Linked DNA regions of Homo sapiens: region 1 is linked to region 2. A link means that fine-mapping ties the variant in region 2 to the expression of a gene that starts in the linked region. Tissue or cell type: esophagus mucosa. Region 2 holds a variant in brackets; the other region holds the start of a gene. All regions are shown on one strand. Distances are from middle to middle.

The links. PIP is the estimated chance that this variant, and not a neighbour inherited with it, causes the effect.
Region 1: it holds the start of PHYH, and the variant in region 2 is fine-mapped to the expression of PHYH in esophagus mucosa (GTEx, PIP above 0.99).

The regions. Positions count from the first base shown.
Region 1 is chr10:13,295,245-13,303,348 of GRCh38, forward strand. PHYH (phytanoyl-CoA 2-hydroxylase) reads right to left here and starts at 4,820. Exons shown (of 9, transcript NM_006214.4): 1 at 4,724-4,820; 2 at 2,943-3,001; 3 at 252-362. The coding sequence starts at 4,798. LOC124902377 (a long non-coding RNA gene) reads left to right here and starts at 4,945. Exons shown (of 2, transcript XR_007062056.1): 1 at 4,945-5,162; 2 at 6,810-7,724. RefSeq lists enhancers at 3,810-4,430, 5,007-5,146, 6,522-7,022, 6,879-7,168, 7,359-7,508 and a silencer at 4,407-4,826.
Region 2 is chr10:13,216,543-13,224,646 of GRCh38, forward strand. It overlaps UCMA (upper zone of growth plate and cartilage matrix associated), which reads right to left. Exons shown (of 5, transcript NM_145314.3): 5 at 5,224-5,658. The coding sequence ends at 5,561. It also overlaps the pseudogene RNU6-6P. Among named protein-coding and RNA genes, the nearest start is that of UCMA, 14 kb to the right of the region's middle. The variant T/C (reference allele first, on the strand shown) is at 4,237.

The DNA of each region.
Region 1 (8,104 bases), 79 kb after region 2:
CTTGAGCCCAGGAACTTGAGGCCGCAGTAAGCTATGATCGCACCACTGCACTCAGCCTACACAACAGAGTGAGAACCTTTCTCTATAAAAAATAAAAAGCCAGTCTGGCACCAGAGCCCATGCTTCTAAACACTTCCCAACAAACCAAATCATTAAAAAACATCTGTAAAGCCAGGAGCGAATCCACCTTGTATTCTCATTACATGCACACAATACATACTATTGTAAAATAACAAATAGTGTTACTGTACCGAAAGCGTTGAATATCGGCATCAGGTACAAGATTTTTGATTACTAGAAACCCATTTTCTTCATAAAATTTTCTCTGTTCCAGGGTTAGAACGTTATTATCCAGAGTATACCTAAAGGAGAAAAAGAATCCCAAAATAAGTTACATTTTTAAATTACAGGCTAGGCACAATGGCTCACACCTCTAATACTAGCACTTTAGCGGGCCGAGGCAAGTGGATCACTTGAGGTCAGGAGTTTGAGACTAGCCCAGGCAACATGATGAAACCCTGTCTCTACAAAAAATACTGGTTGTGCCACTCCACTCCAGCATGGGCGACAGAGTGAGACCCTGTCTCAAAAAAAAAAAAAAAATTTAAATTACATCCTAAAAATATGTATCAAGAACCTGAGGCTAGGCGTGGGGGCTCATGCCTATAATCCCAGCACTTTGGGAGGCCGAGGCAGGTGGATCGCCTGAGGTCAGGAGTCTGAGACGAACCTGACCAACATGGTGAAACCCCATGTTTACTGAAAACACAAAGTTTAGCCAGGCATGGTAGTGGGCACCTGTAATCCCAGCTACCCGGGAGGTTGAGGCAGGAAAATCGCTTGAACTTGGGAGGCGGAGGTTGCAGTGAGCTCTGATCATGGCACTGCACTCCAGCCTGGGCGACAGAGCCAGACTCCGTCTCAAAAAACAAAAACAAAGACAAAAACAAGAACCTAGGAAACGTTCATGCTCTTCAATTCAGCATTTCTAAGACCAAGGAAATAATCTGAAAACTTACGCTTTATGTCACCAAAACAAGTGCATTAGTGGGCCGGGCACAGTGGCTCATGCCTGTAATCCCAGCTTTTTGGGAGGCTGAGGCAGGTGGATCACCTGAGGTCGGGAGTTCGAGACCAGCCTGACTCACATGATGAAACCCCATCTCTACTAAAAATACAAAAATTAGCGTGCCTGTAATCCCAGCTACTCAAGAGGATGAGGCAGGAGAATCGCTAGAACCTGTGGGGGTGGAGATTGCAGTGAGCCAGGATTGCACCAGTGCACTCCAGCCTGGGTGACAGAGCAAGGCTCCATCTCAGAAAAAAAAAAAAAAAAAAAAGTGCATTAGTGGAAGAAAAATTAACTAGTGACACTATGTTCACTCAGTGGAATATGACTCAGACATTAAAAATTAAGGCCATATAATAGTATGGATGGCGGGCACAGTGGCTCATGCCTGTAATCCTAGCTTTGGGAGGCTGAGGTGGGCGGATCACGAGGTCAGATCGGGACCATCCTGGCTAACACGGTGAAACCCGCCTCTACTAAAAATGCAAAAAATTAGCCCGGCATGGTGTCTGGCGCCTGTAGTCCAGCTACTGGAGAGGCTGAGGCAGGAGAATGGCGTGAACCCGGGAGGCGGAGCTTGCAGTGAAGCAAGATGGCACCACTGCACTCCAGCCTGGGCGACAGAGCCAGACTCGGTCTCAAAATAAAATAAAATATAATAAAATATAATAAAATAAAAAATAGTATGGACAATGCTTATTATAATAAAATATTATTACAATTATGTAAAACCAAGACACTATATGAAAAAAAGAAAAGCCTGCAAAGAAATACACCAAAGCAATTTTTAACAGTGATTGCCTTTAGAAATGGAATTAGGGATGATTTTTTAAAATTCCTTCTATTTCTCTGATGTTTCTGTAATGAATACATATGATTTTTCAGATGGGAAACAAATTCAATAAATTGTATATTTTTAACTGTCCAGTTGATGCATTCCAAGAAGGTAAAGTAACAAAATCCAAATAAATGTACAGCATACCCATAAACTCAAATCACCCAACCTATTCCTTAAGATCGGAATTGTGGTTGTATGAGAATATTTAGGAAGGTCAAGATCTTCCCCTTTAAAGGTGATTTAAGATAAACCAAAGATGCTAGCTAATATGTCCATATAACCAAATACAAGCTAATTTGTTTTGTTTTGTTTTGTTTTTTGAGATGGAGTCTGGCTCTATCACCCAGGCTGGAGTTCAGTGGCGTGATCTCAGCTCACTGCAACCTTGACTTCCAAGGTTCAAGCGATTCTCCCACTTCAGCCTCCTGAGTAGCTGGGATTATAGGTGCACACCACCATGCCCAGCTAATTTTTGTATTTTTTCATTTTGTAGAGGTGGGGTTTGTAGAGATGTTGGCCAGGCTGGTCTCGAACTCCTGACCTCAAGTGATCCACCTGCCTTGGCCTCCCAAAGTGCTGGGATTACAGGCATGAGCCACGGTGCCCGGCCACAAGTTAATTTAAATGAGATGTTTAACTGAATTTTTAAAAGTCAGATTATAAGGCTGGTGTGATGGCTCAGGCTGCAATCCCAGCACTTTGGGAGGCCAAGGCAGGAGGATTGCTTTAGCCCAGGAGTTCAACACCAGCCTGGGCAACATAGGAAGGGCCCGTCTCTATTAAAAATAAATAAATAAATGTCGGATTATGTATTTTCTGGTATTTTTCCTTCTTTCTGAATCTTAAAATACATACAGAAAATTAGTCGGTCTCCAAAATTTTCCACAAGTGCACTAATTAGAATAAGTCCTGGAAACAGAGGATTTGTATAATAAAATTCTAATCAGGTAACATATTATGTGGTATATCTTCATTACCACTCAAGAAACTTTTATATACATAATATATTTCAAAATCAAAACTCAAACTACTTACTGGAATTGTTGAGGATGGAAACTGGCAGAGGAAATAGTCCCTGAAGTGGGATGAGCTACCTAGGATGTGAATTAAGGCAAATAAAGTAAAATATAGAAGGCCAGGCACGGTGGCTCATGCCTGTAATTCCAGCACTTTGGGAGGCTGAGGCAGGAGGATTACTTGAGCTCAGGAGTTCGAGACCAGCCTGGCCAACATGGTGAAACCCCATCTCTACTAAAAATACAAATTAGGCCGGGGGCGGTGGCTCACGTTTGTAATCCTAGCACTTTGGGAGGCCGAGGCGGATGGATCACCTGAGGTCGGGATTTCGAGACCAGCCTGACCAATATGGTGAAACCCCATCTCTACTAAAAATACAAAAATTAGCCAGGCGTGGTGGCGTTCATTTGTAATCCCAGCTACTGGAGAGGCTAAGACAGGAGAATTGCTTGAACCTGGGAGGTGGAGATTGCAGTGAGCTGAGATCAGGCCACTGCATTCCAGCCTGGGCAACAGAGAGAGACTCCATCTCAGAAAAAAAACTACCACCACTACTACTACTACTACTACTACTACTACTACTACTACTACTACTGCTACTACTACTACTACTAATAATAATAATACAAATTACACTTGGGAGGCTGAGGCAGGGGAATGGCTTGAACCTGGGAGGCGGAGGTTGCAGTGGGCCGACATTGCAGAGTGCGGCACTGCACTCCAGCCTGACCACAGAGCAAGACTCCGTCTCAAAAATAATAATAATAATAATAATAATAATAATAATAATAATAATAACAACAATAACAACAACAACATAAATTCGCCTGGCATCGTGGCGCAACCCTGTAGTCCCAACTACTTAGGAGGCTGAGGTGGAAGGATCTCTTGAGCCCAGGAGTGAGCCGAGATCGTACCACTACTGCACTCCAGCCTGGGTGACAGAGTGAGGCCCTGTTTCAAAAAAAAAAAAAAACCAAAAAAGCAAAACCCTAGAAATTCCTTTTAAAGATCTCCTTTCTATCCGGTAACTGCAGAGAGTTGACATAGAATTGCATTGTTTCTTTAGCTTAATCGGTTACTTTCGGAATGTCACTCTCATCAATTAACATGTTATCCTTTCTTTCTCTCTGTTTCTCTCTTTTGGAACGCACTGGCCATCACGGCTCACTGTAACCCTGGACTCCTGGCCTTGGCCCCCAGAAGAGCCGAGACAACAGGCAAGGCGTGTGCCGCCGCGCCAGTCCTCACCCGCTGTCCTTCCCCAAATAGTGTCTTTATATAACTCAGTGGCAATGCCGTAGTCCAGCAGGGAGGCCGCCCTGGGCAGCGCCTGCCTGGCCAGCTCCTGCCCGGGAGGGCACCGTCCTCTCCCCTCCGGAGAGGTCCCGGTCACTGCCTGCCTGGGCCGGTTCCAGGCAGCCCTGCGCGCCTGTGCACCGTGCGCCTGTGATTGGACATCTCTGGGTCTCTGGACAGCTGCCGGGGTCACGCGCCGCCGGTGAAACGACGTCTCCACAAAGAGAGGAGCAGAGGCCCCCAGGGATCCCGGAGGGCAGGGCAACGCGGCAATTGCCCCGACCCCAGGGCGGCCGCGCGTGTCCTCGGGGGACGCAGCCTCTTCCCCGCTCCCCGGCTCCTGGAAGAGACGCGACCCAGGCGGGGACGCGGCGCTGAGCGAGGAGGCGCTGGGGCTGCGAAGCGTGCGACCCCGAGGCCTCCACCCGGACCAGGGCCACCACTCAGGCGGCGGCGCCGGCGCCGGATCCAGCCCGAGCCCCGCGCAGCCCAAAGGATACGACAGCCCCGGCCGAGGGGCGGCCGAGGTGGCCCAGAACAATCTGCAGACGGGCGGCGGCGCGAAGCTGCTCCATGGCTGCGGCGCGGGGAACCCCCACCCCTCCCGGCCTCTGCCCCATTTAGCCCAGCGGGCGGCTCCGCCTCCAGGCGCCGCCCCGGACTGGACGTAAGCGGGATTCCGGGCGGTGCCAGCTCGCGGGCCGGGCTGCTGGGGAGCCCTAGTCCGCTAGAGTCCGCGCGCCGGGCAACCGCCCGGGGCTGAAGTCCTCCCCACACCATGATCCTTCCGTCCTTTATTTTCTTTCTTTTTAAAAAGAAACAAGATCTTGCTCTGTCGCCCAGGCTGGAGTGCAGTGCGCGATCATAGCTCACTGCAGCCTTGAACTCTTGGGCTAATTTTTATTTTTTGTAGAGATGGGGTCTCGCTACGTTGCCCAGGTGGGTCTCAAACTCCCCCCGCCTCCCGTCTCGACCTCCCAAAGTGCTGGGACTACAGGCGTGAGTCATTACCCCTGCCCCGCACCCTGTTTCTGTTCCATCACCAGGACCCTCCCTGCCGCACCGAAGCTCGGGGGCCCAGTGACCAGGCCGAGGTCACACAGTGACAAGTGGCTGGGCTGGGACCTCACTCACTCTCCTAACGTCATGGCTTCCATCTGTTTAACCCTACGTGACTGCTCCTTCCACTGACAGCTGAAAGAATAAAATCTCCGATTTAAACAAAAAGTTTGCCGGGCGCGGTGGCTCACGCCTGTAATCCCAGCACTTTGGGAGGCCAAGGCAGGCGGATCACGGGGTCAGGAGTTCGAGACCAGCCTGGCCAACTTGGTGAAAACCCGTCTCTACTAAAGATACAAAAATTAGCTGAGTGTTGTGGCGCACGCCTGTAATCCCAGCTACTGGGGAGGCTGAGGCAAGAGAATCACTTGCAACCGGGAGGCGGAGGATGCAGTCAGCGAGATGGCGCCACTGCATTCCAGCCTGGGTGACAGGGCAAGACTCCGTCTCTAAACAAACAAACAAACAAACAAACAGGTTTTTAGCCGGGTGCGGTGGCTCACGCCCGTAACTCCAACACTTTGGGAGGCCGAGGCAGGAGGATCGCTTGAGCTCAGGATCGCTATAGATCGAAAGCAGCCTGGGTAACATAGTGAGAACACCTGATCTACAAAAAAATTAGCCGGGCGTCGTGGCGGGCGCCTGTAGTCCCAGCTACTCAGGAGGCTGAGGCAGGAGAACGGTGTAAACCCAGGAGGCGGACCTTGCAGTGAGCGAGATGGCGCCACCGCACTCCAGCCTGGGCGACAGAGCAAGACTCCGTCTCAAAAAAAATAAAAAATAAATCAATAAATTAAATAAATAAAAATTCCAGACATTGTATGAGGAAGCATTGCAAAACTTTCTGTTCTGTTAGCTGTTGCCTGTAGCCCCCAGTCATGTTCCCCACGCTTGCTCGATCTCTCACTAAACTTTCACGTAGACCCTTAGAGTTACAAGCCCTTAAAAGGGCCAAGAATTTCTTTTTCAGGGACCTCGGTTGCAAGTCTGCCGAAGTTCCCGGCCTAATACAGCCCTTCTTTAATCCGGTGTCTGAGTTTTGTCTGCGGCTCGTCCTGCTGCAGGAGGATCACCTGAGCCCGGGAGTTTGAAGTTGCAGTGAGCCCAGATCGTGCCTCTGCACTCCAGCCTGGGCGACAGAGTGAGGCCATGTCCAAAAAACACAAAAACAAAAAACAAACAAAACTCCAAAACATCAATGAAGTTTTGAAAATAAAAATAAAAAAATAAAAATGCTAAGATGCATCCCTAAAAGTCATATGTGCCATTCAAAAGGGGTATTTCATTTAGTGGGACTCCAGCCCAAAATATTAGAAAGTTCGGTTGGTCATAAAAAAAAAAAAAGTGAATAAAATAAATGACCTCCAGAAAAGTCTGATGCACACAGGCCAGTATGGTGTAAATTTCTTAGATAACTCCAGCATCTCTTTGTAAGATTTATTTTCCATTCCATAACTACGGATATTGACATAGCATCTCATTGTTTCTTTAGTTTCATTTTTTCATTGATTTTTTGTTCTTTTTTAGCTTCGAGTTACTTCCAGAACGTCGCAGCACACGTTATCACTTCCTGCATGACGTCTTTATAGAATTTGGTGACAATGTCGCAGTCCAGGAGGGAGGCCCGCAGCCAGCATCACCAGCCCCTTCCTGTTTGCACAGGCAGGGAGGAGAACGGCAGCTCCCAGGCTTCCACTGGGGAGTCCCTCCGGCTTTCTCCGGGATTCCGCCCGCCCCAGGGTCTCAGACCAACAGAAGGACCCGGGATCCCTCAGCAGCTCCGGACCTCATCTGCCCCACTTCGGCATCCCGCGCGGGAATATGACCATGTAGGAGTAACCCGGGGCTCTCAAGGACTCTACGGTTTGTCACGGTTTGAACGCAAGCGCAGGGCCTGGGGCGGGTGCAGGTGGAGGGTCGGCCTCTTTCTGCCCTTGGGAACGCCCCTTTCTGGATGTGGACCGGCGAGGCGGTCTCTCCTTTCTGCCCTCGCCTGGTGAAATGTGGGCACTGCTGCCAGGAGAAAAAAAACTGAAGCTGTGAATTCAGTTCATCACCCTTCCCTTGTTTATTAAAAAATCGGACCTTGGCCGGGCGCGGTGGCTCACGCCTGTAATCCCAGCACTTTGGGAGGCCGAGGCAGGCAGATTAGGAGGTCAGGAGATCGAGACCATCTTGGTTAACACGGTGAAGCCCGGTCTCTACTAAAAATACAAAAAAGTTAGCAGGGTGGTGGCGGTCGCCTGTTGTCCCAGCTGCTCGGGAGGCTGAGGCAGGAGAATGGCGTGAACCCGGGAGGCGGAGCTTGCAGTGAGCCGAGGTCGTGCCACTGCACTCCAGCCTGGGTGAAAAAATAAAAAAAAAAAAAGATCAGGACCTTTACCCGCGCTGACGGTGATTGGTTTTCATGACCAATAAAGAAATTCGAATGAGATGAAGCTACTTACACCTGTGTTTTTACTGTTCCTTTAAAATGCCCTAATTTCACAACCATGTGAAAATTCCTGCCATCTCTCCCCCAAGGCATTTATACAAGGATGTACTTAGATATTTAGATGTATTTAAATTTATGCTTTTCTTTTCTTTTTTTTTTTTTTTTGAGACGGAGTCTGACTCTGTTTCCCAGGCTGGAGTGCAGGGCGTGATCTCGGCTCACTGCGACCTCTGCCTTCCGGGTTCAAGAGATTCTCCTGACTCAGCCTCCTGAGTAGCTGGGATTACAGGCGCGCCATCAAGCTCAGCTAATTTTTTGTATTTTTAGTAGAGCCAGTTTCACCATTTTGGCCAGGCTGGTCTCGAACTCATGACCTCAAGTGATCCGC
Region 2 (8,104 bases):
CCAGACCTCGGTGCCTCGGAGGAATGGGATCATCATTTTTAATTCTGCAAGTCTTTAACTTGGGGGTTTACACACTAAATGATCCAGACTCACTAGTGTGTTATTTGAGACTCAAAAGTATTATTAGAGTGTCTAAACTAATGAGACATTATCTAGAAAAATGTTCACCTTTGTTTGCATGTGAAATCAGGGTTCTTTTCAAACACATCTTCAAACACTGCCATTCCTGTAGGAAGTTTTTTTTTTTTTTTTGGAAAGTTTTACAAAAACTGCTTAACTGTAAATTAACTATACAGATTTTTATTCGTGGTAGAAAGTTGGTTTAATAGGTAAACCAACTGGTATTAAACAAAGCATGGCATCCAACCAGGAGGACAGTTTTGTGTGAATACAGCGCAACCTTCCTGGTGTCGCTGGCTGAACAGCCTTCAGGGCTGACGCAGGATCTGAGCTAGCAGCAGGCTGAGCTTGCACTCCTGCCCAAAAACATATCACTGGTCAAAAATAAATTCTAAAGTTTTTTAAAAAAAATAAAAATGGTCAGCACAGTGTTCCTGGCGGAAAAATAAATAAATAATAAATAGAAAAAAGTTTATATACTTAGATGTATACAGATCACTCAAAGGAAACTCAAGACAATGGTGATAATGGTTTCTTTCAGGAGACCCAGGAGGGACTACCTTTCTGCGTATTCCTTTCTGTTCTTTAAAAATGTTAAACCATGGGGTGCTCGCTTCGGCAGCACATATACTAAAATTGGAACGATACAGAGAAGATTAGCATGGCCCCTGCGCAAGGATGACACGCAAATTCGTGAAGCGTTCCATATTTTTATGCCGCATATCTACAACTATCTGATCTTTGACAAACCTGAGAAAAACAAGCAATGGGGAAAGGATTCCCTATTTAATAAATGGTGCTGGGAAAACTGGCTAGCCATATGTAGAAAGCTGAAACTGGATCCCTTCCTTACACCTTATACAAAAATCAATTCAAGATGGATTAAAGATTTAAACGTTAGACCTAAAACCATAAAAACCCTAGAAGAAAACCTAGGCATTACCATTCAGGACATAGGCGTGGGCAAGGACTTCATGTCCAAAACACCAAAAGCAATGGCAACAAAAGCCAAAATTGACAAATGGGATCTAATTAAACTAAAGAGCTTCTGCACAGCAAAAGAAACTACCATCAGAGTGAACAGGCAACCTACAACATGGGAGAAAATTTTCACAACCTACTCATCTGACAAAGGGCTAATATCCAGAATCTACAATGAACTCAAACAAATTTACAAGAAAAAAACAAACAACCCCATCAAAAAGTGGGCGAAGGACATGAACAGACACTTCTCAAAAGAAGACATTTATGCAGCCAAAAAACACATGAAAAAATGCTCATCATCACTGGCCATCAGAGAAATGCAAATCAAAACCACTATGAGATATCATCTCACACCAGTTAGAATGGCAATCATTAAAAAGTCAGGAAACAACAGGTGCTGGAGAGGATGTGGAGAAATAGGAACACTTTTACACTGTTGGTGGGACTGTAAACTAGTTCAACCATTGTGGAAGTCAGTGTGGCGATTCCTCAGGGATCTAGAACTAGAAATACCATTTGACCCAGCCATCCCATTACTGGGTATATACCCAAATGACTATAAATCATGCTGCTATAAAGACACATGCACACGTATGTTTATTGCGGCATTATTCACAATAGCAAAGACTTGGAACCAACCCAAATGTCCAACAATGATAGACTGGATTAAGAAAATGTGGCACATATACACCATGGAATACTATGCAGCCATAAAAAATGATGAGTTCATGTCCTTTGTAGGGACATGGATGAAATTGGAAACCATCATTCTCAGTAAACTATCGCAAGAACAAAAAACCAAACACCGCATATTCTCACTCATAGGTGGGAATTGAACAATGAGATCACATGGACACAGGAAGGGGAATATCACACTCTGGGGACTGTGGTGGGGTCGGGGGAGGGGGGAGGGATAGCATTGGGAGATATACCTAATGCTAGATGACACATTAGTGGGTGCAGCGCACCAGCATGGCACATGTATACATATGTAACTAACCTGCACAATGTGCACATGTACCCTAAAACTTAAAGTATAATAATAATAATAAAAAAAGAAAAAAAAAAAAAAAAGAAAAGATAAAAAAAAAAAAAAAAATGTTAAACCATGGGTGTGTATTACCTGTTAGACTATTTTTTTTTTGAGATGGAGTCTCGTGTACCTGTTAGACTATTTTTAATTTTAAAAAGCCAAGATAATGTGGAAAGTGAATAAAACATTTTTAAACATTTATAATTTTAAACATTATAAGATCACAGAGTATATCAGAGTTCTCAATTGTAGACTAGAACATTTATATTTAACCAATTTGTTTTCAGAGAAATCCCTTCAAGGCTAGAGACAACTTTTTTTTAGAGACAGGGTCTTACTCTCTTGCCCAGTCTGGAGTGCAGTGGTGTCACATAGTTCACTATACCCTCAACCTCCTGGGCTCAAGCAATCCTCCCACCTCAGTCTCCCGAGTAGCTGGAACTACAGGCATGTGTCACCATGCCCAACTAATTTTTAATTTTTTTTGTAGAGATGGAATCTCACTATGTTGCCCAGGTCAGTCTCAAACTCCTGGGCTCAAGCGATGCTCCCACCTCGGCCTCTGAAAGTGCTGGGATTACAGGTGTGGCTCACCACGCCCAGCCTTTTAAATTATGAAAAACTTTTAAATTATGAAAAACTTCCCAAAGAATTAGAACATAATTGGCAGCAAATGAATTAGAAATAAAATAACCCAACTCAATGTAACTGATAAAAACCACATAAGTTAAAAAAATTTTTTTAATCATTCTGTGGCTCACAAAACTTACCACCTCCTTCTAAAAAATCTAAATAAACAAAGGCACACGATAATAAATTGTAAAATCTCTCCTGGAACACACAAAAACATTGTTTTTTCCTTGTACCTTTAACCTGCACTGGGAAAATGAAATTCCAACATATGCAAAATTGGTGAATAAAAATGAATGACAGATATATCCTTTGACAAATTTGTTTTCAACCACTTAGCTAGAACCCACTAAGAACTACGGGAAAGTAATGAAAGAACAGAAAAACCCAAGCAAAAGAAGCCCCAAAGGCCACACTTTTGACAAGGCCAGTCTCCAAAATACAAACCGCCCTGTTCTAATTTCATGTGAACTGTGGCTGTCCAGATCCCAGATCGCGTTACCTCTGTTATGCTTCTCCCGCCCAAGGAAATGACCGCAGCTGGCATTTGGTGAAGGAATTCTGGACCGAATTTGAAAACCCTGAAGTATAATGGAGCCCTTGTTAAGGATGGGGGTAGAACAAGGTAATGGAATTCTTATTTGGCTCCTTTCTGCCAGAGTTCTGTATCTAGAGCCACCGTGCTAAGCATGAGCAGGGAAGAGGCAAGAACAGGCTGTTTTGCTTTTTTAAAGCAAGCCATTCTTGGTTTTTGACATCTGAAAAGCCCTGCATTCCTTCCTGTGGACACACGACCGGCAGGTGGTGCATGGTGTGGCTGTGAGTCAAGTTATTGGTTGACATCCTCCTGATCACCACCATGCAGCAAAGGGGAACTGCCCTCTTGCCAGAAAGCACTGGGGTGTGTTATCCTGACCAATATGAACCAGATTGGGGCTTCTCTTGTTTCCCCATGGAAGTGACAGAGCAACACTTTGCCTTTTTTTCTGTTGCACACTGAGTATTTTTTTTAGTCATTAATTAAAAAAACAAAAACAAAAACCTTGTAAACAGAGGCTACCTACCTCAGGGCCTGTCTTGGCATCCAACCAGAAGGTCAGTTATGTGCAAATACAGTGCAACCTCCCTGGTATCGCTGGCTGAACAGCCTGCACCCCTGACTCAGGATCTGAGCTAGCAGTGGTTAAGCTTTCACTGCTGCCCAACTACCAACCCCAGTTGGCAGGCTCACCATCCACTCGGTAACTGATCTAGATAGACACATGTTGTTCTCAAATTTCATTTTTTCTTTTTCTTTTTTTTTTTTTTTTTTTAGATAGGGTCTCACTCTGTCTGACAGACGGGAATGTAGTGGCCTGATCATAGCTCACTGCACCCTCAAACTCCTGGCCTCAAACAATCCTCCTGCCTCAGCTTCCCAAAGCACTGGGATTACAGGTATGAGCCACCACACCTGGCCTTAAAGTTTT[T/C]CTGTTATACCAGTCTCTTCCACTGCTAGAACATTGCTTACTAAAAGCTGTGTGTCACTTTCAAGGAGGTTTGTGGAGAGCTGCGGGTTCCTAAACAGCCTTTCTGTTTAGCCAGGCCCGAAGGCATTGGGGTAGGTGGTAGAAGTACATGGATCACATAGCTAGGGTATGCACTAGGAACCTGGTTAAGTCTGACTTGGTTAAATTTAATGGAGCTAGAAGTGAGATTTGCCGTCTGAAAAGACACCATGAATAGTGTATATTTCAAGCACCCCTGTCCCCTGCCCAGGACTTTTCTGGTCTTAAGTTTACTTGCTTTCAGAAAGGATCAGCAAAGATGCCCAGCGATAGGAAGCACGCGACCTCTTCAAAGAGAAATTCGATTTAGCCAGTTTAAAATATGTAGAAGTCGGCTGGGTGCAGTGGCTCACCTGTAATCCAGCACTTTGGAAGGCCAAGGTGAGTGGATTGCTTGAGCTCAGGTGTTCAAGATCGGCCTGGACAACATGGCAAGACCCCGTCTCTCCTGAAAATACAAAAACTAGCTGTGCATGGTGGTACATGCCTGTAGTCCCAGATACTTGGGAGAATGAAGTGGGAGGATCACCTAAGCCTGGAAGGTCGGGGCTGCAGTGAGCCATGATCTTGCCACTGCACTGCAACCTGGGTGACAAAGTGAGACCCTGTCTCAAAAAAAAAAAAAAAAAAAAAAGTGTGTATATATATACATATATATATACACACACACGCACATATATATATATATGTTATGACCCAGCGTTTCATGTCCAGAAATCGATCACACTGATAGACGACTGGGTGAGTCAACTCTAGCATATTCGGTGGCATATGGGACATATTGAGAAGAGTGAGCAATGCTCCTCAAGTTCAAGCTTTCAAACACCCAAGTCAGCAAGAATCACATCATCGCTCAGGGAAGACAGCATGACACCCCTCGGTTGGAGATTTGAGAAGATAATACACATGGTTGATTCAGCGTTTTTATTTGTAAGCCATAAGCAAACATGTGATTCTTGACTGATTCTTTTGCTTGGGAACGAAGCCAGGGGAAGCCACTGTAGGTTTGGTACTAGGAGGCCCTGCAGGCAGTTGCTCACCTCAGAAGATGGTCTGCAAAGAGGTGAAAGTCAGGACACTTTCACACACTGGAAGGAAAGGCATGCGTCTTTTCAAGAGCTGCTGGCCACTGCAGACCCCAAGCTGAGACCCTCTGAAGGGCCGGTTTGCATGGGAAAGATTGCTGGAACACGGGGATGCCAATGGTGCTACAAGCTTTGTCTTCTTGGCCGGCTTCAGGATGGGATCAGGTGTGGTGGCGGTTGTAGAGATAGGATGGGTGCAGGCCGTCATAGTGCCACTGGCGCCACTGCTCCACAGCCTCCCGGCTCCTCTCTTCCTGCTCTGGGGAGGAAAGACAAAGCCACCTGTTAGGACAGGGGGACTCTGACCTGCCACTGAGCCCAGCAGCCATCAGCCGAACCCCTGCCCTGTGGTGACCTGCACTGAGAGTGTTTGTGAGCCCTGGTGAGAGAAGGCCAGGACTGGTGAGGATCCAGAGTATGTGAGCTGACAAGCCTTGTGTATAAGTCAGGCCCAGATGGGCGAAGGTCACAGGCAGGTGTAGACCAGGGCCGGGCATCTCAGGCTCTTCTGCCTGCCCAGCCAGTGTAGGAGGGCAGAGGCTTATGCAGCCCTGTTTCAAAGACTTAACAACCAAGACACAAGACGAAAAAGTAACAACACAGTAGCAGGAATGGACTACTGGAAGGACATGCAAGAAAAATAAGGGACTACAAACCATGCCTTGAAAACATGAAGGAAATCATTGTCGACTTGGAGTTTTTTTTCCTCCATACTGTTCTGAATTAATTTTCTTTTTTTTTCTTTCTTTCTTGTTTTGTTTTGTTTTGAGACGGGGTCTCAGTCTGTCACCCAGGCTGGAGTGCAGTGGCGTGATCATGACTCACCGCGGCTTCAACCTCCCAGGGCTCAGGCGATCCTCCCACTTCAGCCTCCTTTCACCATGCCTGGCTAATTTTTTAATTTTTTTATGGAGGTGGAATTTCAGTGTGTTGTCCAGGCTGGTCTCCAACTCCCAGTCTCAAGCAATCCTCCTGTCTCAGCCTCCCAAAGTGCTGTGATTGGCCAGGCGGGATGGCTCATGCCTATAATCCCAGCACTTTGGGAGGCTGAGGCTGGCAGATCACCCAAAGTCAGGAATTCTAGACTAACTTGGCCAACATGGTGAAACCCTGTCTCTACTAAAAAATACAAAAATTAGCCAGGCATGGTGACACACACCTGTAATCCCAGCTACTCAGGAGGCTGAAGTATGAGAATCACTTGAACCTGGGAGGTGGAGGATGCAGTGAGCTGAGATCACGCCACTGCACTCCAGCCTGGGCGACAGAGTGAGATCCTATCTCAAAAAAAAAAAAAACACAAAAGAAAGAAAAAAAGAAAATGCCCAAAAGAATTGAAAACAGGGACACACAAATGGATACTTCTACGTGAATGTTCGTAGCGCAACAGTTACAGCAGCCAAGAGGTGGAAACAACCCCAGTGTCCCTCAACAAAGAAATGGATAAACAAAATGTGGTGTGTATGTGTAAAATTTCGCCACAAAAAGGAATGAAGTTCTGGCACATTCTACAACATGGACAAACCTTAAAAATATTCTGCTGAGTGAAATAAGCCCAGACGCAAAAAGATGAATAATGTATGATTCCACTTAGATGACATGTCTAGAATGGGCAAGTTTTTGTTTTTGTTGTTTTGACTCTCGCTCTGTCACCCAGGCTGGGGTGCAGTGGCGTGATCTCGGCTCACTGTAACCTCCGCCTCCCAGGTTCAAGCGATTCTCCTGCCTCCACCTGGAGTAGCTGGGATTACAGGTGCATGCCACCACGCCCGCCTAATTTTTATATTTTTAGTAGAGATGGGGTTTCATCCTGATGGCCAGACTGGTCTTGAACTCCTGACCTCAAGTGATCGAACTGCCTCGGCCTTCCAAAGCACTAGTATTACAGGCGTGAGCCACTGCACCTAGCCTAGAATGGGCAAATTTACAGAGACAAAAAAAAAAAGAGGTTGCCAGAGGCTTCCAGGAGGGAGGAATGGCGAGTTACTGCTTTATGAATGCAGTTTCTGTATGAGGCTATGCAAGGGTTTGGAAATAGCAGTGACTGTTGCACAGTGAATGTAGTAAATGCTGCTGAATCGTATGCTTAAAAATAGTTTATGCTGGGCATGGTGGCTCACACCTGTAATCCCAGCACTTTGGGGGGCCAAGCTGGTAGGATCGCTTGAAGCCAGGAGTTTGAGACCAGCCTGAGCAGCGTTAGCAAGACATCGTCTCTACAAAAAATAAAAAAATATTAGCCAGGTGTGATAGCACTTGCCTATAGTCCCAACTACTTGGGAGGCTGAGTTGGGAGGATTGCTCGAGCCCAGGAGGTTGAGGCTGCAGTGAGCTATGATCATACCACTGCACTCCAACCTGGGTAACAGAGCAAAACCCATCTAAAAAAGAAAGAAAGGAAGCGGTGGGGAGGGAGGGAGGGAAAGAGAAAGTAAAGAAAGAGAAGAAAGAAAGAGAAAAAAAGAGAAAGAAAAAGAAAGGAAAAGGAAGAAAGAAAGAAGAGTTTAAATGGCAAGTTTTATGTTGTGTGTGTTTTATCACATTTTTAAGATGCATTTGTCAAAGATGTTGGAAGGATGGGAAATCCTAACAGAAGATGATGTCAAGAATTAAAGAACCAAGATGTCTTTCTTACCTCTGTTTTCTCAAATGTGGACCTCACCAAGAAGCCCATGAACCTGATTTTGGTACTAGCGAAAGTGAAA